2 separate regions of the Homo sapiens genome follow, and region 2 is linked to region 1. Evidence: fine-mapped expression QTL. A gene starts in region 1. The other region holds a variant in brackets. All regions are shown on one strand. Distances are between the middles of the regions.

Region 1 (12,871 bases):
TGGGAAGGTGGGATGGAGGTGCATGTATCCAGGCTTTTGTGCTGCTGTTCTAAGTAGGGTTGGCCTGGTTAGCATGTGGTGTTCTCCTTTGGTGCTGTTTGGCCCCAGTGTTTGGAGTCTGGGGAGGTTTGGCCTTTAAAAATCAAACTACCATGGAAACTGCTTGACCTGAAATTTTGGTTCACAGCCTTCACTGGATTACCCATTGGGTCAAACAGTAAAACCAGTGGACTTATATTGCTATCTCATGGCTAGAGTTCCAAGGTAAAAAGCTATTGGATCTTCATTTGTGTTTGTGTATACATGTCTAGATGTGTTTATTTGTATGTACACTTACTGTTATATGTTGTGTCTATCAGATTGGCTTATAATTAAAGGAGCGCTCATAAATTAAGTAAATAAGTCTAAGCAATTTTCAAGTTCACATGACTTAAGTATAACTTTACTAAACAAGCTGGCACTGGAGTACTTACTGGTCATGTGCCTAGAGTGAATTTCTTCATTGCACAGTATGTATGGTGATACTGGTGGAATTAAGGATATTGAGTTGTGTATCAGGAATAAAATATTCATTATGTGGTTTTCTGGGGGGCTCTGGGTAACACTGTAGCCCCCCGGGTAGACTAAGTAGGAAAAATTTAGAGATGGTTTCCTGTCTATTTGTTTTTGCTTCTAATTTTCATTTGTTTGCTATTTGTTCTCCTTTGGGTTTTACTTGTGTATGCATATATATAAAACCATAGACATTTTTTAGTTTCTAGTGGAAGGCTTTTATTTGGTTCTGAGAATAGTTATTTTGTTTCCTGCGAATTTCCAACAAGTCATCATGTGTTCTATTTATTTGGAATTCCTAGGCTACCTATTTCAGGCCTGCAGGAATTGATGGAGCACACCAGCCACTTGGAATTTGGTTGATTTGGCTTGCCTCTGATAATCTGCACAACAAAGACTCTTGCTTCAAATGCAAGAAAAACGAGAATTGGATAAAGGACTATATTAAGCCCCTGCCAGTCCCCTGCCAAAAATGCGAGAGCATCAGTTACAACCCCTGGCACTGGAAGATTGACTGGCCCTGCTCCCACCAAGGGGTTCAATAAGGCAAAACTCTAGCAGTGCAAAAGAGAAATTAGATGAAGACTGAAGCGACCCAGGGTCTTCCTCACTGCCCCTGTTCAGGAACATCGTAATTACTACTGAGGAGCCCCCAGGTAACTCTGGACGTCATGGGCACCCAAATTCAGTTTCTTTTCAATACAAATTCAGTTTCTTTCCTTACTACTTATGTAGGAAAACTTTCCTCCCAGTCCACGACCATTATGGGAATGGAAGGAAAGCCACAAGTAAGATCCTTTATTCCTCCTTTGATTTGTCAAATTGAGAAACAAATCTTCCAACAGTAATTTCTAGTAGTATCAAGCTGCCCAGGCCCCCTGTTAAAAAGAGATATTATGGTTAAAATAGGGGCACTACTACAATTTAAGCATCATCTGGTGAAATTGCTAATAGTCAAAAATACAGACACTGTCCCAGACCACATTAATAAACAGGTTAACACACTGGCATGGTATACTGGAAAACCAAGGAAGGCTAAAACAGCAGTGCCAGCCAAAATACAGCTTAAAGACCCCTAGCTATTTATTTTCCCAATCAAAAACAATACCCAATTAAGCTGGAAGCAAGGAAAGGCCAAGCATCCACAGCTAAGGTATTACTTACCCCTGGGCTCTTAAGACCCACTGGTAGGTCCACCCATTGGTGGCAGATCCATATACCCTCCTGGCTCAGGTGCCAAGGGATGCTAAATGGTTCTCAGTCCTAGACCTAGAAGATGCTTCATTTTCCATTCCTCTGGCCCCAGAATCCCAATACCTTTTTGCCTTTGAATGGGAAAATCCTAATGCCAGAGAAAAACAATAATACACTTGGACAGTTCTCCCTCAGGGTTTTCAGGATAGCCCCCATTGCTTTGCCTGGGCCTTAGAGAGGAATCTGAGGGGTCTGCAATTAATTAAGAAATGGGAGTATACTCCAGTATATGGATGACCTCCTTGTGTATAGCCAAATCCTGGATGAAAAAACTACAAAAAGTTTGAATTTCCTGGCAGATAGGGGATACCAAGTGTCCAAAACGAAGGTTCAGATTACCCTCCGACAGGTCCATGATCACATCCTTAGCAGCTAGCAGAGAGTATGGCATCCAGGAGAAAATAAAAATGCAGAGAATGACTGAATAAACAAACTCACATCCATACAATGCCCAAGAATCAGGGGCATGGAGAAGCCAGGATGAACTGTTCTCAGAGAACAACACAGTGTAATAAAGGGAGCAAACATGCCAGCATAAAGCAGCATAAGTGTCACCAACTCAGAGTCTAATCTGACTACCTCCTTTTAAGCAGTACCTTTTATATGTCAAAACAACCAAAATAAAAGAGTGAAAAGTATTTGCAGGACATGTGAAAAGCAGAAAGTTAGTATGTTCTTCAATATTTTTTAACAGACAAAATCTTAGTATATAAGTAGTGTGGGAGGCTTTGGAGTAAGACACATCAGGATTCAAACTCTGGCTCTGCTACTTACCAGACTTGGGTAAGTACTAACATTTCTGAGCCTCAATTTTCTCATCTTTAAAATGAGCATAATATTGTCTAGTTCACAAGGTTACTGTGAGGATTATAAACTGATGTCTAACACAACACCTGGAAAAGAGCAGCTATGCAATAATCGTAGATAGTATTGATAGGAAAAATACTGAGTATACTTTTAAAAATATGTAAATACATCTAATATTCAATTCTTAAGTAAAAATAAATCAATTTAACAAAAACATGGGAAAATATTCCTCAACAGAAATGAAACAAAAATTAAAACAAAGTACAGTTAGCACAAAATATCCAAGAGTGTACATGAACACACCTAATTTTAGCATTAATATCCAATACTCACACTATTATACATATTATGGGGTATAAATGGGTATAAATTTGAACTATGCACTTAAAATCCATTAAAGTATTCAGGACTCTATCCTAAAGAAATAATCTCAGATACATAAAACCCATATGCATGAAATGCTTGTATCTGCATTATTTACAAAATTGCAAAATTTTAACAACAAAAACATAATGGTAATTATTTAAAGGTTCCACTTATTGACTGAATGCTTGATTCTCAGTTGTCAAACAGTGTTAAGTATATTATAGACATTGTTTTATGTAGCCCTCACAACAACCTTCTGAAGTAGGTATTATTATTAACCCCTTACATATAAAGAAACTGAGGCTTACAGAGGATAAGTAGTAACTCCAAAGTTATAGACAGCCAAGGCAAGATCAAACTTAGGACAATCTGATTCCGGGGTCAAGAATTTAACTTGTAAAAGACTTGTAGCATCTCTACTCCATGGAACAGTTCTTCTAAATTCTCAAGAAGGTTATAAAAACTCCAGTGAATTGTAGGATAATTCTTCCGACTAAATAAGTTGTATTTGTATTAAAACTAAAAGTATGGAAAATACGAAACTAAAAGGAAATACCTGTAAGGATACACCCAAAATGTTAGCAATATTTACTGCAGTGGGTGGTGATTTTTGTTTTTTGGTTTTTTGGGGTTTTTTTGAGACAGAGTCTTGCTCTGTCACCAGGCTGGAGTGCAGTGGCACGATATCAGCTCACTGCAACCTCTGCCTCCCAGGTTCAAGCGATTCTCCTCCCTCAGCCTCCCGAGTAGCTGGGACTACAGGCATGCGCTGCCACGCCCAGCTAATTTTTGTATTTTTGGTAGAGACCGGGTTTCACCATGTTGGCCAGGATGGTCTCGATCTCTTGACCTGGTGATCCGCCTGCCTCCGCCTCCCAAAGTGCTGGGATTACAGACGTGAGCCACTGCGCCCGGCAGATTTTTTTTTTTTTTTTTTACTTTTTATCCATTATCCAAATTATCTGTTAATATGTTTGTATTATTTTTAAAATAAGAACAAGTTTATATATATCATGATATATATCATGATAACATGATATCATTTTACTTAGATTTTAGTAAGTTTACAACTATGGAAAGTTGGACTATTTCTCAAGTATTAGACCAAAATTTCTTTGCTTTGAAGACAGAATTTGCTTTGAAGACAGAATTGAGGGCTCATCTTGGTGGTGGAAAAAAAAAAAAAAACACCTACTATTAACCTTTATGGTACCTACTGTTTCACAATACTGGGACGCCCTCCAAGTAAATTATATCTACACGCATCTTAGTACATTGTTTAGAATGGAAGCTCTGGAATCTGATCAATTAGATTCCAAAGCTGGAGCTTTGGAGCTACCACTAACTTACCTGTGTAATCTTGGTCAAACTGTCTCAAGACTCCATTAACCTAACTGCAAAATGGGAATAAAAACTTTACTAACCTTTTAAGGTTGTCCTAACCCTTAAATGAGATGATGAAACATACACACAGCACCTGACCCTGGTAAGCACTCAATAACTGTTCATTCTTATCCACAAGACACACTTCCAAAAATGTCAGCTCTAGCATGCACATGAGAAGTTATTAGACAAGGAAGCAATACATGTTTCCCTACAGTTTCCTGATATTCTGAAGAGAGACACTGGATCTGATATTCTGATGAGAGACATTACATGAAACTTGCAGAAATGGTAAAAATCATGCAACAGTCATACTATGAGGAGTTTGCTACATGCCCTTCCTATGGCTTCCTCCTCTCATCCCCTTCACCTCCTTGGCTAAGTGGCAGCATAGCCCAGGACAAGCTCAGTACTAAGCTCAAGTAGAAAGTCTGAATTCTTTCACATCTCTAGGAAGGACCTGTTCTGTGACCTTGGGAAAATCAGTTCAATTACTCAGAATTCTGTAGGTAAGAAGAAACCAAGGGACATATATACATATATGCATATATATATGCATATATATGTGTGCATATATATATATGCATATATATATATATGCGCACATATATATGCATATATATGCGCGTATATATATCCACACATATATATATGTGTGTGGATATATACACACACACACACACACACACATACACACAATTTCTGTATGTAAGAAGAAACCAAGGGACTGAGTAACTGAATTGATTTTATATACATATATATATTTTATATATAATATATATAATATACATTTAAAATATATATATATAAACATATATATATATCTTTTAAATGCCTCTACCTAAGCTAGTGGCCCAGTCCTGGCCAGGCTGGAACAACACCTAAGGCCTGGGTTGAGAAAGCAAGGACGGAGGACAGAGAAAAGGGAGGCGTTCCCTGGGCACCACCCCTCCACCCTCAGGCTCTTCCAGGTGGCAGTATGCCCTCTCACCCATCTCAAAGTTGCGGGGGAGGGGGGACTGCGTCTCGAGGGCTGAACAGTCACAAAAATAGAGCAAGAAGTGAACCACAGTTAGACCCTGAGGCAAGGAGGTTCCAGAGAGTCAGGAAGTTAATAAGCTGGGATGCAAGGATTGCAGCCTGCCGGCCCCTGCCCCTCGCGGGCGCCTGCGAGCCTGGGAGTCCGGGCTGCAGCGGGACCGAGTGGGCAGTCCCAGGGCTCACCGTACTCCCGGGGCTCCGGATCTGGCTGGAAAGTAAAATGAGCCACCTGCCGCCTCTGGGCCGCATCCTCGACAGTCGCGGCGGGGTGCAAAAAGCCCCGCGCCAGCCCCGCGCCAGGAAGCCGACGCCAGTGCCCCTCAGCCCCTGCCGCCCTGAGCCTGAGTAGCCAGCCGGCAGCCGCCGCTACAACCGCCATCCCCGCTCACCACCGGGATTCTCAGGCTATGCAGCCGCACGCCGCCTGCGGGGAGGGCGGAGCACCCGAGGAGGCTTCCACATTGGTCGGGCCAGAGGGGCGGTCCCATGAAACAGACCAATCGGAACTGGAAATTTAGGGGCGGGGAAGGCGACGTGACGAGCTGGTCGGCTTCTGCTCCTTGTGCGCATGCGGAAGAGGGGAAGTGTGGGCTAGAGGTGGCGCCAATGAAATAGTTTCTGGGGTGGAGCCTCCCCGAGGTCGGCCGTGCGGTCCTCGGGTGAGGACCCGAGTTTGCAAAGTTCCACACAGTGCCTGGAGGCGATCTTTTCCGGTGTCATTTACAGTGCCATTTCCAATGGTTTAACATCCATACTTTTTTTTAAATGTAACCCTTTTTTATCCTGTCCTGTCTCTATTATTGTGTGAGAGGTGAAGAGAGCTACTGATTGGCATTGGTTATTGTTTTGACTTTCGAAAAACTGCTGTAGTCACTGCTCAAAGCTTTCACTCCTTATTCACACCCTCCTTAAAATGCTTAATAAGCATATATAGATTTTTATTGATTTCGTTTTTCCACATTTAAATGAGAGATGAAAGAGGTAAACTTAGATTTCATCCTGCAAATCCACTGAATAGGAATTCAGATACATTTTGCCCAGAAGTAGCAAAAATTACCTGATTGGCTTAGTCTAAGTAGCTTAGAAACCTGGAGAATTTGAGTCACTAATTTTCATTTATAGTAATCAACTATGTAAATTTGTTTTAATCTAAGTGTTTACCAGGATACATTCTCTGTCCATGAATTTACTAAAAAAAAAAAAAAGCACATAAAACATGAAATATCATAAAATCAAATATGACAAGAGACAACAGAGACAGTGTGTCCATCAGATGAAAATGGGAGGGTGGGGAAGGATGGTCCCAAAACAGAATTTGAAGAAGAAAGTGGGAGTGGAGGAAAAGAACATTCCTCTTCCATTATGCCTTGCCTCTTAACCCATCTTTGGTTTTGCACAGGGGCAAGGGAGGAGAGGGTAGAAATGGGGCAAAAGGAGAGGCAGAGAAATGTGTTTTCTGACTGAGATTAAGAAACAGCAATTGAAAACTGCCAAAGGGAGAACCAGAATTATGTCTCCATTTTTCCTACCCCCACACTAAGTCCAAAAATTCAACATTGGGGAAATTTTTTATCTTGGCTTTTGTTAGTGTTCATTTCTGCTGTTTTAATAGTGTGGGGTAGAGTGTTTTGCATGTGCATGAAGGGTATTTTTGTTTTAATGAAGGAAGGGGTAACAAAATGAAATTACATTTACATAGTCAAATTTGGGTTTAAACTAAGGAGAGTAAAGAACAAGGATAAAAATGAATAGAGCTTTTTTTCTATTTGTTGATAGTTTAGGGAGCTGGGGGTACTGAGATTATTTAGGTCGGGGAGAAAAAGAGAAAAATAATAACTGATGAGAATTTTATTGAACCTCTGCTACGTACAACCCAATGACAAGCCACCATTGAGACAAATAAGATCAAGGCATAGTTTTACTTCTAAAATGTCCAAGGTGGTAGAGAAAAGAGACAGATTAGGCAACTACAATCCAATGTGATAGGAGTCCTAGAATAGTGCAAACAAAGTGAAACACAAAAAGAGCAATAAACTCTTATTTGAAAGTCAAGTGTTTCCAGATATAACTCTGAGCTAGACCTAAAAGATGACTAGAAGTTACCAGGCAGACTAGGGAGAAAATGGCATTCCAAACTAAGAAGAAACCTGTATAAAGGCTGATAGGCATGAAGAGCACAGTGCATTCCAGGAAGAGAAAATAGCTTGGTGCTTCTAGATTCAGGGTGTAGGGAATGATACAGGGTTAACAGAAAAAGTAGGAAAAACAGATTAAAGGGAGATTTTGAAGGTCTAAGAGGTTTGAACTTTCAACTACATGCAGCCAGGAAAAACAAACAGAGCACCTGCCAGATTCACCTGTTTTGCAAACTGATTTTTTAAATTTTCCCCATCTCTACCACACCATTTGCCTGGTAACCATGAAAATGTCTATGTTATTACAGTGGGACTTTCCTCCATTCCCCTTGCCCTGGCCACATTTACTCAATTTGGGAAACTGTCCTTTTCTGGGAATTTTGGAAGTGTAGTTTAGAAAGAAAGATCAGATTATCTTTAAATGCCACTAGGAACTGCAAAAAATGGGAGTTTTCAGTAATTTCGTGAACCAGAAAAGGTGAAGAGTGTGATTATATTTGAGTTCCTGATTCCATTTATTCCCAAGGCCTAACTGCTTTCTGGTCCTGGGGTTCTATGAGACATCACCGTATCCTTAAAATGTATTCCCCTCTTTGTTTAAGCTATTTCCAATTGCAGAACCCATGACTATGGAGTTGGAATACAAAGCAAAGTTGCTCTTCACCCTTCAGAATGACTCTTGCATCACTTGCTCTCACTGAGCTTCACTACCTGTGCAACTTGTACCTGTTTAGTCTCAGCTTGCTTTTAGACGACCATTTTATATAGCAAGATGATAGTTTTGCAGTATTACATCCTGGCATCTGCCTCCTTTCAAACTCAAACAGAGGTATCATGGAGGCAGAAAAAAAAGAAATCAAATTATTGCTTTTGAATTTTAAAATAGATTTTAAACTTGATAGCAGAGACAATAATTTGAGAGAAAAGTTTGAATTCTACAGACTGGTTTCTGAGTATTAAACCTCAAAAACCTGAATGAGTTAGGAAACAAAGCTTAGGGCTAAAAGAAAAGATTGTAAATCACATACCAGTATAAGAGATGGTTTGTCTCACCTTCCATGGAGGTACAGCTATAGATTAGAAAGACCTGTAGGTATCCTCCTTTGTAGATGAACCTAGAAAAGTATCACTAAATCCTCAGGCTACCCAGCATGTCATGGCATTTGAAACAGCAGGATGCTTCTCCCATGTGGCCAAGAGAGATGCAGCTATGGCAACAAGATCCAGGGAACTTGAGGAGACCCAGCAATCAGAATGATAAGGACTTGTGTCTAGAATATACTGATTGAAAGTCTTAAACGCAACAATAGAAAAGAAAAATTACCCAATTAGAAAATGGGCAAAGAATTCTCATTCATTGATTGTGGCAATGCAAAATGGTATAGCCACTTTGCAACACAGTTTAGTTTTTTATAAAACTAACATATTCTCACCATGAAATCCAGCAGTAGTGCTGCTTGGTATTTGCCCAAATAAGCTAAAAATGTATGTCCACATTAAAACCTGTGCAGAATATTTACAGCAGCTTTATTCATAATTGCCCAAACTTGGAAGCAACCAAATAAACTTAATGGAATATTATTCAGCACTAAAAAGAAATATTAAGCTGGGTGTGGTGGCTCATGCCTGTAATCCCAGCACTTTGGGAGGCCGAGGCGGGCGGATCACCTGAGGTCAGGAATTTGAGACTAGCCTGGTCAACATGGTGAAACCCCGTCTCTACTAAAAATACAAAAATTAGCTGGGCGTGGTGGTGTGCACCTGTAGTCCCAGCTATTCAGGAGGCTGAGGCAGGAGAATCGCTTGAACCCAGAAGGCAGAGGTTGCAGTGGGCCCAGATCACGCAACTGTGCTCCAGCCTGGGCAACAGAGTGAGACTCTCAAAAAAAAGAAAAAAAAGAAAAAAAAATATTTAACCATCAGAAGACATGGAAGAAGTTTAAATTTATATGACTAAGTGAAAGAAGCCAATCTAAAAAGGCTACATACTATATGAATCCATCTATATGACATTCTGGAAAAGGCAAAATTATGGAGAGAATAAAAGAGATGAGGGGTTGCAAGGGTTGGGAGCAGGAAGGGATAAATGGAAAATCACAGAGGATTCTTAGGGTAGGAAAAATATTCTGTATGATATTATAATGGTGGACATATAAATATGTCATTATACATTCGTCCAAATGCATAGAACGTACACCACCAAGAGTGAACCCTAATGTAAACTATGGGCTTTGGTTGACAACTGTGTGTTAATGTAGGTTCCTTGATGGTGACAAATGTGCCACTGCAGTGCAAATGTTGATGATTAAGGAAGCTCTGTATTTGGGGAAAGCATATGGACATTCTCTGTACCCTCCTCTCAAATTTTTTGTGAACCTAACACTGCTCTAAAAAACATAGCCTATTTAAAGAAATGGACAAAGGATTTGAATGACATTTCTCCAAAGAAGATATGCAAGTGGCCAATGAACATAAGAAAAGATTCTCAACATCAATAGTCATTAAAGAAATACAAATCAAAACCACAATGAGATACCACTTCATATCCACTAGGATGATTAAAATAAAAAGAAATCTATAACATGTGTTGGTGAGGCTGTATAGCAACTGGAACCATTGTGCATCACTGGTGGGACTGTAAAATGATGCAGCTGCTATGGAAAACAGTTCCGCAAAATGTTAAACACAGTTATCTTTTTAATTTTGTTCTTCTATTTCTCTTCCTTTTTTGTTTTTTTAAACATAATTATCTTATGACCCAGCAATTCCACTCCTAAGTATATAACAAAGAAAAATGAAAAGGTGTATTCACCAAAGCTAGTACACAAATATTCGTAGCTGCACTATTCATAATAGCAAAAAAGTGGAAACAATCCAAATACCCATGAAATGATGAATGGTTAAACAAAACTGATATATCTGTAAATAGAATATTATCTGTCAATAAAGAGTAATTAAGTAGTGTTACATGGATGAACTTTGAAAACATTACGCTAAGTGAAAGAAGCCAGTTTAAAATACTATATATTATACAATTACATTTATAAAAAGTCCAGAATAGACAAATCAACAGAGACAGGAGGTAGGGAATGACTGCTAATGGATATAAAGTTTGTTTATTTATTTATTTATTTATTTATTTATTTATTTATTTTGAGACGGAGTCTCGCTCTGTCGCCCAGGCTGGAGTGCAGTGGCGGGATCTCGGCTCACTGCAAGCTCCGCCTCCCGGGTTCACGCCATTCTCCTGCCTCAGCCTCCCAAGTAGCTGGGACTACAGGCGCCCGCCACTACGCCCGGCTAATTTTTTGTATTTTTAGTAGAGACGGGGTTTCACCGTTTTAGCCGGGATGGTCTCGATCTCCTGACCTCGTGATCCGCCCGCCTCCGCCTCCCAAAGTGCTGGGATTACAGGCGTGAGCCACCGCGCCCGGCCTAAAGTTTATTTTTTGAGTGATGAAAATGTTCTAAAATTAAGTAATGTTGATGGTTGCACAACTTTGCTCTATGCTAAAAACCAGTGAATTGTACATTAAAAGGATGAATTTCATGATATGTAAATTATATATCAGTAGCACTATTATTTAAAAATTAAATTACAGAAAAATAAAGTTATATTTGCCCATCTAAATATGTTGATGAAGAGATTCATTCCCCCTACAGCATGTTTAACATCCAGTGTATTAGTTCACAGACTCTGTTCATATGAAATCGGTTTCAACTAAGGACTCGGGATAATGGAAAAGCTCCCTGATTTTCCTTACTTCACTGAATTACTAAGTGGAATGATCCTGTTGGAATCAAAAGAAAGTCCAGAATATACTCAAAGCCAATGTATTTGTTTCCTAGGGATGCTGTCACAAAGCAGCACAAACTGGTTGCAGGAACGTATTGTCTGCGATTCTGATCAAGTCCAAGATCAAGGTGTCAGTGGGACCATGCGCCCTCTGAAACCTGTAGGAAAATTCTTCTTTTCCCTTTTGTTGGTTCTCTGGAATTCTTTGTCATCCCTTGGCTTGCAGTTGCATAAATCCAGTATGTGCGTTTGTTACCACATGCCGTCTCCATATCTTTGCACAGCTATCGTTTTATAAGGACACCAGTCATATTGGATTAGAAGCCCACACTGCTCCAATCTAACCTCATCTTAACTTAATCAATTACATCTGCCATGACCCTATTTCCAAATAAGCTTAAATTCTGAGGGCCAGGGGTTAGGTACTGGGTTTGGGGGTAGGGGAGTGTCAAGCTCAACATATCTTTCAGGGGACAGGGGCATAACAGTCAGAGACTTGGTTGCAGGAACAGAAGCTAACTGGATGAATGCTTTTGATAAACTATGGATGCTTTTGATAAACTATTAGGAGGATGTTTACATGGTTAAAGAGTTTTTATAAAGTGTTTTGTGGATTTCTTCAAATATGACCTAAAGTCATTTGGAGAAGGGTTAAAAATCTAGAGATATTTGGTCTAGATAAGATTTTAAAAGTGATGTATTAACTCTCCCTCAAAGTTTGATGGGCTCCCTTGTAGAGGGGTTAAATTTACTATTTAGCTCCGGAGGGAAGAATAAGAAACAGGAAGAAGCAAATTCTAGTGTAATATAAAGAGCTTCTTATTAAGTAGACTGTCATGGGAAGTAATGAATTCTCTATTACTGAAATAGTCAAGCACGAAATGGATGAACACTATTGAGGGAGCCTCTTGGGAGGATTTATGCTTCATTTACAGGTGGTTTAGCGTACTTCTAATTTTAAGAATTCTGATTCTACTATTCACTAGTGTGTACTGAGAGCCTTGCATGTGCCAGAGACAGTGTTTCAATCAACATTATTTTAAGCCAACCCCTGGTCTAAGCCAGCTGTCCCATCCAGCATGTGAGTTATTCCTTCTTCCCCTTCCTCGGCATCTTGGCAACTTCTCTCTGGCTTCTTATCTCCTGCAGGGGCTTGAGATGCACTGTGATCAGTCTTCCAAGCACTTTGAACCATGCTATGTAGACAGAAGCCGTGTAAGCCAGTCACTGAAGAAAGGGCATCAAAAAGTGACATTATTGGAAGTTTGGGCTCAGCCCAGGGGAAGGATTTAGATACAATCAATGGCTCAGAAAACGGCTACAAATGTTAATATCTGCCTGTATGTATAACAGTGTTTTAGAGAGAGCTACTCATCTGTAAAAATACATACCAGCCCGGCAGTAGTGATTTTTTAAAACTTCCCCAGGTAATTTATGAGTACTGCTAGGTTTCTCAAAGCTTAATTAAAACTATGGCTTACATAATTGTGAATATTGGGACAAAAGAAATTTGAGACCCATATCTTACCTTACCTCC
Region 2 (12,871 bases), 140 kb before region 1:
CCAGAAGCCTGGGCATTCTGGGCTCATACCATATCCCAGCAATACCACTGTATTTTGCACATAATTGTCACTTGATTCAAATGTTGAACACTGAGTGAATTAATCTTTTTTCAAACCAATTTATAAATGATAAAAATAAACCCTAAGCTCAAAAAATACTAGAGAAAAGCAAAGTAAAACAAAACCAAGCAACGCAGAATGTAGTTCAGTATAAAAAAGCAGTGTATCTGGAACTATATCCCATGTTCAGAAAACAGAAACAATCACAGATCCAAAAAGAACCAAAGAAGCCTTAAGACACAGATTAAACAGTGGAAAAGATGCTAAGACAACAGATGACCTTGGACACTGTGGTGCTGACTCTGAGAAAAATTTGCTTCAATTAAAAATCAAGCTTTATGAAGATGAATTTCCCAAAGCATTGAAAAGAGAGCAGGAAAACTAGATAAGGGAGAAAAAGAGTACAGTAAGAGAGTTAGTAAAAATTAATAACAACCACCTAACATTCAAATAGAGTTGAAGTTTGAAACAATCACATGTATTATTTTGTTCTTTCAAAAACTCTGAGGCAAGCAGGTCTTTTAATTACCAGGCAATAATAATTGGAATTCCCACTGGCAAAACACTGTAGATTTTTAATAGTAACTAAGCTTCAGCTATGGATCATTCTGAATGTTAAGTAGCAGAAAGAATCAAAACCACCCCAATGTTAAAGTGGTCCTCATCACAACATAGACTTCCACTAACGTGGCCATTAGCAGCAATTCACAATGGTAATTACCTAAATAAAGAGCTGCTATTTCTGGACTGAACAGGGGTCACCTCAAGAACCATTTCCCTTCACTGTAAGTCTCTAATAATGAATTTAGTTGGCTGCTGACAACCTTCCAGAAAGCATCCAAAAGTACAGACAATATGCTGCATTGTCATAGTGAATTGTTATGCCTGTTTTAGAAATAAGATTTTGGAAAGTTTAAATGAATCGTAAAGACATCCAAGTGAACAAGAGGAATCAGAATTTAAACTTTGATCAAAAGTTTCCCTTCTACATCTAATGTTAGCTCACCTGTAACATATCTTTGAAAAACTAATAATTCCGGTTATAAATATGTGTGGAAATCAGCCTGATTTGTTATGACAACCTTAAGGATGTAGCTGATTGAGTATTCTTCTTGTGTGAAATAACTCAGGTCTAGGTAATAAGATTTAACAGGATAATATTTTTGAAATATTATGTGATTTATTTTTATTCTTACTAATCTTGTTGCTTTACCCAGCAAAGCTGAAAGCTTTGGCTTTGAGAGACAGACAGATACAGCCAAGGACAAAGGCATTATTGTTCAGTTATAATTTTCCAAATAGCAATTTAAAAATTAGCTTTGCAGAAGCAATTGTTTTGCAACCCACATTCTCTAAGAGCTTGAGAGAGAAACGGTTTTGTTTTGATGGTCCAAAAGGACTTTGCTTGGACCATGCAGAACTGTAGAATTGAGAGCTTATATGAAAGTTACTCATAGATATGGCAAAAGGAGAATATTAAAGCAGTTTCCCTGGCTCAAAGAAAAGAAATATAAGTTTGATTGCCTTCTAGGATGAAATAAGGACCAAAGTGTCTAACTAGAGATTAAACATTGTCTGGGCCCTTGAAGGTGTGTCTGTATGTTGGGGGAGAGGGGTGGGGGAATGTGTGAGTTTGTCTATGTATGTGTGTATGTGTGTGTGCAAGTGTGTACAAGTGTGTGTCAGCATGGGGCTGGACAGAAGATGGGGTGGTAAGATGGTAAAACATTCAGAAAGACTAAGGGGGTGTCTCCACAAACATTAGGAGCTTCTGCCCAGCTTCTGAAGCCCTCTGGGAGAGCCATTTTGGATTCTGTAAGCCAGTGTTGGGTAGACAGCATACAGCTGCAATGGTGAAGAAGTCTGCCAGGTTAGAATGAGCTGAAAGCTTTACACTGCCCTGTCTTTCCCTGATTTCAGTAGGATGTCAGTGAGATAAAAAAACATTCTCATGTCTCCTCCCACCAAAGGAGGTCTGGAGGGCTTTTGTAGTAGCAATGGCAGGAAGGGGGCTAGTAAGCATGAAGAACTGCAGGGCCAGCCAATGAAACAGCAAGGAGTAACCATGGTTTCATTTTACCTTAAAACTTCAACCACAAGATGCCCCAATTGTTGTATAGCAATGCAGGATAACATGAAGACAAAGGTCAAAACCTAAGCAAGACAAGATACATAGGGGAGGCGAGGGACGACCAGGGGACCACAGACTGGATGGACACCTTCCTTCTCTCAATGCTTCCCATGCACTGAGAAACTCACATTTCTGCATATCCACAAGTGTATTTTCTCTTTATTGCTTAACAATTTACAATTTTCACAGGTTAGAGAATCATAAATTATTACAATATCAAGGTTATCCTAAAGTGTGATTCTTAACATATTGGTTTAAAATGTCTTTCTCTCATTCATCCATTTATTTATTTAGTGAGATAGGGTCTCACTCTGTCACACACATTGGAGTGCAGGGGAGTCATCTCAGATTACTGCAACCTCCCCCTTCCAGGCTCAAGTGATCCTCCCACAGCAGCCTCCCGAGTAGCTGGACCACAGGCACATACCACCATGTTTGGCTAATTTTTGTATTTTTTTGTAGTGATGGTGTTTCATCATATTGCCCAGGCTGGTCTCGCATTCCTAAGCTTAAGTGATCCACCTGCCTCGGCCTCCCAACGTGCTGGGATTGCAGACATGAACCACCGTGCCCGGCCCTCTCTTTTATTTCTAACTGGATAATACTTGCCTCTCTTCTGCTTCATTCAAATTGACAGAGAGTAGAAAAGAAGGGCCATGACATAAAAGTGCTGCTCCTTCGTGGTGTTCTAACTCAACCCAGAAGTCAATATTTTGTCTAACAGCACAGAGCACTACACTTTGGAATAGTAGTTTGCTATTCTGGTTATTCTAATTCCATTAGTCTCAACTAGATGCTGTGACTGAGAGTACACATGAAAATAGTATCAGAACTTAAAATGATCTCTATCGTGTTTTTACCAAGTATCTAAAAGGTGACCAGATGTAGTGTTAGGTCCAGCAAGGAAGGAAGCTCAAAAAGCTACAAATGAATGTGTTCCAGCCTCTCACTTTGTCTACTTTTTGTTTCCTGAGCTTTTGGGGGATTTTTTTTTTCCTATTGAAAGCCTTTTTTGAATTTTATTCCAGAAAACTATCCCCCTAAGGTCGTTTTTTCTTCAATTCCTGGGTTCCCATAGCAACCTTTTGATAAACATGTTATTGGTATTATCAGAAAATACTACTGAAATTGTTGGGTTTCTTATCTGTCTCTCCCACTAAGACAGTATAAGCACCTTTCAGTTTCCGGTCTCTAATTCAGTTGACTTTCTGTGTGTGCAAAAGTGGCAAACAGTGTTCTAAGTACTTTACATACATTAAAATTCTGTTTATCCTAAAAAAAAAATCACAGAAGATAAAGACTACTATTATATCTCTGTTTTATAGATGAGGAAACTGATAGAGAGGTAGAATAGTAGAACCAAGAACCACACTCAGGCCACCTGGCTCCAGAGTAGATGCTCAACAAAAGTTTGTTGAATTGAATTCAATCCAAGCTAGGAGAACTATGATTCAGAAATCCTAAGTTCCTGTCTTCCAGATACTGCCTTTGGTCAGCATATTTTAAACCAATATTCCATGAGAATCCAATTAAAGAAACAGTTATCTTTTGTTCAAATAATTTGTTTTGTTACAGTCATCTTTCTTCTGCTGCCGTACTCCTTTACTTTTTCCAAGCTATCATTACTTTATTGAGCCAAAAATCATTATAATATGACTTTTGTCAGCTTCCACAAGGCTACCATTTTGCTCGAAAAGAAACTAATTTCTTCCATGAGCTATTAGAAGACATTATCTGTTACTATTACAATAGATGCACACATACATAAAGTATAAGCCACATGAGCAAACTGCCTGTTATCCATTTTTCCCTCAGGGCAACAACAGTTCTGTTCTTTATTTAAATAACAACAAAACAAAAAAATTATGCTAATTACTTTAAGGGTAATTTTAACTGTGTTATTTTTTTCTTATAATTAAGTTGGAGCTCCTCACAATTTGATTTATGAGCAACCTCTTTTAGAATCTCTATGGAATATTACCTCAAAAGGAAACTTAAATTTCTAACATGTTTTTGAAACCATTCATTGCCTAGTTATTACTTCTACAACAACATACACTTCTAGTCAGGTTGTGCTGTGGTTTAAGACATCCACCTACATGCGCACGTGTGTACACACATACATGCACACACACACACACAGTCCCCAGACTGTGCCCTTCCATCTCCTGCTTCACCAGCCTTTCTTCACTTTCATCTGTCATCAAACACCTCAGTCTTTCCTACACATCAATACTTAACATGTTTCCCAATCAGTTTCCTAACATTAAAAACCCAGTGGCTTCTTCTATGATTTTATAGACTCAGGATTATAGATCAGCCCTCAAGAAATAGTGTATTTTGTCTTAGGTACTTTGAGAGCTTGTGGCTTCTTATTTTCAGTTTACTGAAATAAAAAGGTAAGTGAGCTGTTGATTCATCTTTAGATAAATTATTTATTGAAATAGACAAACATAAATATAGCCTTCACAATTCTAAGCTCTACACTTACACAGAAACACTTTTAAAGTGAGATTTCTTTAAATGTAAATACTTGGCCAGGCACAGTGGCTCATATCTATAATCCCAGCACTTTGGGAGGCTGAAGAAGGAAAATCACTTGAGCTCAGGAGTTCAAGACCAGTTTGGGCAACACCATGAGACACTATCCCTACAAAAAGGTAAACAAAAATTAGCTGGGCACAGAAGTGCACACCTGTGGTCCCAGTTACTCGGGAGGCTGAGGTGGGAAGACTGCTTGAGCTCTGGAGGTCAAGGCTTCAGTGCACTGAGATCACACCACTGCACTCCAGTCTGGATGACAGAGTGATACCCTCACTCAAAAAATATAGAGAGAGAGATATTTAAGGACTTTTCTCATTAATTCTTAGCTGTTGTCAAACAATACTTAATTTAATATAGTTTTATCCAGACATTAGTTTAAGATATTCTTTCTATCTACATTGAATCTTCTTATATCAGCTATATACTGCTTCAGCTTTCTATTACCTCATCAGGGAGCAAAGCATGTCAGGAACCATAGGGCTCCCCACTCCTTCCCTCTTCCCCCTGATTGGGACTCTCCTACCTTTGGGTTTATCTCCACTGATATTCCAGCCTTTGTGCTGGTGCTGAAGAATGAAACATAATAAGCCTTTGCCTGGGAATGAGCTGGCTCAGTAGCATTCTCTTGATATCCCTGTACTTCTAGTCTCAGTACCAGGTGGTACTCCCTTTTACTTTGTCTCTCTGTACCTTGTTTTATCCTATTGTCCAGTCTTTCAGTGACTAGATTCTGGCCATACTGTCCAGTTAGTCTGTGGCTGAGATATGACTATAGAGTCCTGATGCTCTATGCCTGAGTCGTTTCCCGATTAACCCCAATTGAGAGATAGAATCCTTTGCCCGATCGAGAGATGTCAACCTTCTCTGCCTGCCAAACCAGCCTACTGATGGCAATCTGAACACTCAAACTACAGATTTGCCTTTAACCCAAACAGATTTGGGTCTCTGGAAACCTACCCAATTTTTATACTTTATCTGTTCTCATCTATTTAGCCTGATGCCCCAGTACCAGTGGACTATTATACCCCAGATGTAGCAAAGATGTTAGTCAATAGTCCCCACCCTGGTTAACAGCCAGCACCACACTCCTCCCCATGATGCAAAGATTAATTAAGAATACAGGAAGGCTTGAATAAATAAAGACAATCCAATATTCATGGAAAGGAATAATCAATATTGCCATGATGTCACATTCCTCAAATTATCTATAAATTAAATGCAATTCCCATAAAAATGTGAACTGTGTGTGTGTGTGTGTACATGTGTATGTGTATGTGTGTGTGTCACTTAACAATTAATCTTCAAATTCCTAAAGAAAATAAAAGGACTAAAAATATCACCTCTCCTCCCTGCTCCCACCCCACCAAAAATAACTGAAGAAGAGCAAGTTCGGGAGATTTGCCCTATCAGATATTCAAATTTATTATAAAGCTATATTGTTAAGATAGAGAGGTATTGTAAGGCTCTAAAAAGACACAAAGAAACATAAAATGGACAGCCCATGAACAAATCCAC[G/A]TGTACATGAACAGTGGATACTGTTAAAAGATGCAGAGTGTAGGGTCAAAAATAAAACAGAGCTCTTACCTTAAATCACCCTAAATATATCAAGTATGATTAAAGGTGACTAGAGACCTAAGTTTGAAAGGTAAAACTTTAAAACTATTCAAAATATTTTAAAATATCTTCATGATCTTGTGATAAGGAAGGATTTAAGTGAGACGGAGAAAGTAGAATCCATAAATGAAAAGATGAATAAATTTGACCACAGAAAAATTTAAAACTTCCGTGCATCAAAAGACAACATTAAAAGAGTGAAAACACAAGCCACAGACTGAGAAAGGATACTTGCAATGTATATATAACTCATAAAGGTTTCTTAGCCAAATAATAAAAAGAAATCCACAAATCAGTAAGAAAAATTTTCCCCCAATAGAAAAGTGGAAGCAAATTTACAGACAAGATGTTCAACCTCATTAGCAATTACAGAAAGGCAAATTTAAACCCAGTAGGATACCATTTCACACAATCAGATTGATCACAACAGGACATCTCACATACTGCTGGTGAGCGTGTAAATGGTACAACTACTGTAAAATCATTTGACAATACCTACTAAAGTTCAAAATGCTGATAATGTAGGAATGAGAAGTTTCATTCCCAGGAATTTACCAGAAATATTGCCTATATACATAAAGAAATATGTATAAAAAATTGCTGTTCTGCAATATTTGCTGCTCTGCACCCTCCGCTGGTGATGCCCAGGCAAACAGGGTCTGGAGTGGACCTCCAGCAAACTCCAACAGACCTGCAGCTGAGGGTCCTGACTGTTAGAAGGAAAACCAACAAGCACAAAGGAACAGCAGCAACATCAACAAAAAGGACAACTCATACCAAAACTCCATCTGTAGGTCACCATCATCAAAGACGAAAGGTAGATAAAACCACAAAGATGGGGAGAAACCAGAGCAGAAGAGCTGAAAATTCTAAAAATCAGAGTGCCTCTTCTCCTTCAAAGGATCGCAGCTCCTCACCAGCAACGGAACAAAGCTGGATGGAGAATGACTTTGACGAGTTGACAGAAGTAGGCTTCAGAAGATCAGTAATAACAAACTTCTCTGAGCTAAAGGAGGATGTTCGAATCCATCGCAAGGAAGCTAAAACCTTGAAAAAAGATTAGACAAATGGCTAACTAAAATAAACAGCATAGAGAAGACCTTAAATGACCTGATGGAGATGAAAACCATGACATGAGAACAACGTGACACATGCACAAGCTTCAGTGGCCGATTCGATCAAGTGGAAGAAGGGTATCAGTGATTGAAGATCAGATGAATGAAGTGAAGTGAGAAGAGAAGTTTAGAGAAAAAAGAGTAAAAAGAAACGAAAAAAGCCTCTAAGAAATATGGGACTATGTGAAAAGACCAAATCTATGTCTGATTGGTGTACCTGAAAGTGACGGGGAGAAAGGAACCAAGCTGGAAAACACTCTTCAGGATATTATCCAGGAGAACTTCCCCAACCTAGCAAGACAGGCCAATATCATACTAAATGGGCAAAAACTGGAAGCATTCCCTTTAAAAACTGGCACAAGACAGGGATGCCCTCTCTCACCACTCCTATTCAACACAGGGTTGGAAGTTCTGGCCAGGGCAATCAGGCAAGAGAAAGAAATAAAGGGTATTCAATTAGGAAATGAGGAAGTCAAATTGTCCCTGTTTGCAGATGACATGATTGTATATTTAGAAAACCCCATCGTCTCAGCCCAAAATCTCCTTAAGCTGATAAGCAACTTCAGTAAAGTCCGATACAAAAATCAATGTGCAAAAATCACAAGCATTCCTATACACCAATAACAGACAAACAGAGAGCCAAATCATGAGTGAACTCCCATTCACAATTGCTTCAAAGAGAATAAAATACCTAGGAATCCAACTTACAAGGCATGTGAGTTGTATTCTCCTTGAAGAGGAGAACTCTTCAAGGAGAACTACAAACCACTGCTCAACAAAATAAAAGAATACACAAACAAATGGAAGAACATTCCATGCTCATGGATAGGAGGAATCAATATCGTGAAAATGGCCATACTGCCCAAGGTAATTTATAGATTCAATGCCATCCCCATCAAGCTGACAATGACTTTCTTCATGATTCAATGCCATCCCCATCAAGCTGACAATGACTTTCTTCACAGCATTGGAAAAAATCTACTTTAAACTTCATATGGAACCAAAAAAGAGCCCACATTCCCAAGACAATTCTAAGCAAAAAGAACAAAGCTGGAGGCATCATGCTACCTGACTTCAAACTATACTACAAGGCTACAGCAACCAAAACAGCATGGTACTGGTACCAAAACAGAGATATAGACCAATGGAACAGAACAGAGCCCTCAGAAGTAACACCACACATCTACAACCATCTGATCTTTGACAAACCTGACATAAACAAGAAATGGGGAAAGGATTCCCTATTTAATAAATGGTGCTGGGAAAACTGGCTAGCCATACGTAGAAAGCTGAAACTGGATCCCTTCCTTACATCTTACACAAAAATTAATTCAAGAGGAATTAAAGACTTAAATGTTAGACCTAAAACCATAAAAACCCTAGAAGAAAACCTAGGCAATACTATTCAGGACGTAGGCATGGGCAAGGACTTCATGACTAAAACACCAAAAGCAATGGTAACAAAAGCCAAAATTGTCAAATGGGATCTAATTAAACTAAAGAGCTTCTGCACAGCAAAGGAGACTACCATCAGAGTGAATAGGCAACCTACAGAATGGGAGAAAAATTTTGCAATCTACTCATCTGACAAAGGGCTAATATCCAGAATCTACAAAGAACTTAAAAAAATTTACAAGAAAAAATCAAACAACCCCATCAAAAAGTGGGCGAAGGATATGAACAGACACTTCTCAAAAGAAGACATTTATGCAGTCAACAGACACATGAAAAAAATGCTCATCATCACTGGCCATCAGAGAAATGCAAATCAAAACCACATTGAGATATCATCTCACACCAGTTAGAATGGTGATCATTAAAAAGTCAGGAAACAACAGGTGCTTGAGAGGATGTGGAGAAATAGGAACACTTTTACACTGTTGGTGGGAGTGTAAACTAGTTCAACCATTGTAGAAGACAGTGTGGTGATTTCTCAAAGATCTAGAACTAGAAATACCATCTGACCTAGCGATCTCATTACTGGGTATATATCCAAAGGATTATAAATCATTCTACTATAAAGACACATGCACACGTATGTTCATTGCAGCATTATTCACAATAGCAAAGACTTGGAACCAACCCAAATGTCTATCAATGATAGAATGGACTAAGAAAATGTGGCACATATACACTATGGAATACTATGCAGCCATAAAAAAGGATGAGTTCATGTCCTTTGCAGGGCCATGGATGAAGCTGGAAACCATCATTCTGAGCAAACTATCACAAGGACAGCAAACTAAACACCACATGTTCTCACTCATAGGTGGGAATTGAACAATGAGAATACTTGGACACAGGGTGGGGAACATCACACACTGGGGCCTGTCATGGGATGGGAGGAGGGGGGAGGGATAGCATTAGGAGATACACCTAATGTAAATGACGAGTTAATGGGTGCAGCACACCAGCATGGTACATGTATACATATGTAACAAACTTGCATGTTGTGCACATGTACCGTAGAACTTAAAGTATAATAAAAAATAAAAAATATATAAATAAATAAAAATAAAATAAAAAGAGTGAAAAAACAAAATCTTCCACCACTTGGCTGCGCTGGAGAGTCTCTGAGCCTACTCTGGTTTCCGAGGCTGCCAGATTCACGAGTTGTTATTTGCTCAACTGAACTCTATTAACTTAATGTGGCTAAGATTTTTCTTTTGACTGTTGTTTACTGAATAATTTAAAGATAAGGCTGGGCAGGATGGCTCACGCCTGTAATCCCAGCACTTTGGGAGGCCAAGGCCAGCAGATGACCTGAGGTCAGGAGTTCAAGACAAGCCTAGCCAACATGGCAAAACCCAGTCTATACTAAAAAATACAAAAACTAGCCGGGTGTGGTGGCATGCGCCTGTAGCCCCAGCTACTCAGGAGGCTGAGGCAGGAGAACTGCTTGAACCCAGGAGGCGGAGGTTGCTATAAGCCAAGATCACGCCACTGAACTCCAGCCTGGGTGACAGAGCGAGACTCTCAAAAAATAAAATAAAAATTTAAAAAAGATTAAAATCTCCTCAATACTCTTTGGAAGGAAGGAAGCGAAGGAGGGAGGAAGGAATTTTGCTTTATAAATTTATGCCACCCAAAACAGAACTTTAAAAAACCTATTTAAGTTTTATAACACATTTCAACTAGACATGAAATAGTTCCTACACAACATCCTTGCTCTCTTTCCTTTCCCTAATTCTTCTATTTCATTCTTCCTTTTTTTTATAGCAGTCTGCTCCAGCTGATAGGGATGGCCTGAACCTTTTCTACTTATGTAAATAACAAAAGTATCATATTCTGAGAACCTTGTCATGTTAATTACCTTGATTTTCAATTTCTGATCTGAACTAGAAAGTTGAAAGGTTGTGCAGTAGTTAGGCATATAGGTTTTGGAGTCAGAAAGCCTCGGGTTCAAGCTCTGGCCATGCCAACTTACTGGTTAATGTGAACATGGGCACTTCTGAACCTCTCATCTAGAAGACAATAATAGTTCTCACTCCAGAAGTTTACTGTGAAGAGTAAAAAGGTAATAAATGATAAAGTGCTTAACAAGGTATCTGACACATAATAAACACTAAGTATGATGAGTGAATTTCCATGAGCTTATTATGAATAATTCTGTAACAGGCATTATTTTTTCGCAACCACTGGTATTAATGATCATAAGTTTCACTAGAAATCACCTACATAGTAAATTAATAAAACAGAATCCCTTCTAAGTTATTAGAATCTTTAAGTTGCAGGTTTAGAAGGTAACTTAAATGTGATCACCTAGTTCAGTTACTCAATCAGCCGAATGCTTGATTATCCTCAGTGACATCCCTGTTTTCAGCCTCTATCTAAGCATCCTGATAGAAAAATGCTCATTATTTCCTAAGGCCACCTTCCATGCAAAAATTTCCTCCTTAAATGGTGTAAAATCCTATTGCTCTAAAGCATCTACCAAAGACTTTAATTTTGTCCACCAAAACTATAAAGAACAAAGCCAAACTCTCTCAATTTCTACCTTCAAATATCTGAAAAACACTTGCAGTTCCCTTATAAAATTCTCTCAGAATGAAATGTTTACAATGTCTTCTACAATAGCATGATTTATATTTCCTTATTCTTTTGTTGGTCCTTTTCCAAACCCATTCCACTGCATCTAAATGTCTCTCAAAGTATATCTACATGAAAATTTTTTTAAATTATTTTACTTGACGTTGAAAGTTGACCTTAGAAAACTATACATTCCTCTGCAAAATTCTGTATTTTTCCAAGAAGTGATAATAACATTCACTATAAAATATAAGATAAAGTCTCTTTCAATCTCTCTGTACATATTGACTTACATACATACACATAACAGATAAATGAGGCTGCATAGAATATTGGTTAAGAGCACAGACTCTGGAATTGGACTGCCTGGGTTCAAATCCCAGCTCAACCCTTGTTAGTATGTGTCTTGGGGCCAGTTACTCAACCTCTCAATGACTCAGTATTTTCAATGTAACTACCTCTGCTAATGTAAGGAATAAATGAGTAAATATATGTTAAACATTTGAAATAGCTGTACAGTGAGGGCTTTAGCTTTTTACCCATGTAAACAATAGACAGCCTCAGAAACCTAAACTTACATTTATTTTCTTAGATAAAATTTTCACTTTTCCAGCTAAACTATAGGTTCAGTTAAATTTAAGTAAATGAATATTTACATTATGAACAACAGAGCCAAACAGTGGACTTTCATTTTACAGTACAAATTAGTTCAACATTGACTGATCACCTAAAAGTCTATTACCTGTTAAATACAAAATTGTATAAAACAGCCCTGCCTTCAAACAGTCCTTGGTTAAGCTGGGAATATGCATGTAATCAAATAACCATAATATATGTAATGCATTCATTATATGGATAAAGTACTTTGGGAACACAGCAACACAAAGTTAAAGAGAAGAGGCAATAATTCACAGTCTGATATTTTATTAAAGAATAACAGCATACCAAAATGGCTAAAGAACAATTGTTTTTAATAGAATTCTGAATAAACTTGAGATTGAAAAATTAATTTTACATTTTACAACCAAACTTAAAAGGCTGCAAAAGCAGCCTTTCCACATGGAGCACAGGTTAAGTTGCCTGGTTGACCAGCATTGCCTGATCTTACTGGCAATTAGTCATTAATATCTGAGTTTCAAAGCTAATGAGAGCCATTCCCATCTGAATGATATGACTGACCAGTTGTTCCCAGTGCCGGTGCTCACTGAACAAAGTTTCACTGCTCAGTCAAGCTGACTGACCATTGTCCTGTTGCCATCTGCTGTTCATAAAACTCAAAGATGACAAAATAAGATTGTTCAAGAACCAGGCCATGATTTTAAATTATCCTATCCACTACACAAGCAACTGCAAGGAGAATTGGTAGAACACAATTTTT

Evidence for each region.
Region 2: its variant is fine-mapped to the expression of BCKDHB in esophagus mucosa (GTEx, PIP 0.95).

What each region holds. Positions count from the first base shown.
Region 1 is chr6:80,099,605-80,112,475 of GRCh38, reverse strand. It overlaps BCKDHB (branched chain keto acid dehydrogenase E1 subunit beta), which reads right to left and starts at 5,805. Exons shown (of 10, transcript NM_183050.4): 1 at 5,587-5,805. The coding sequence starts at 5,782. RefSeq lists enhancers at 5,463-5,542, 5,509-6,009 and silencers at 5,593-5,692, 5,723-5,922.
Region 2 is chr6:80,235,691-80,248,561 of GRCh38, reverse strand. The region is part of intron 8 of BCKDHB (branched chain keto acid dehydrogenase E1 subunit beta); the gene reads right to left. Among named protein-coding and RNA genes, the nearest start is that of BCKDHB, 140 kb to the right of the region's middle. The variant G/A (reference allele first, on the strand shown) is at 6,251.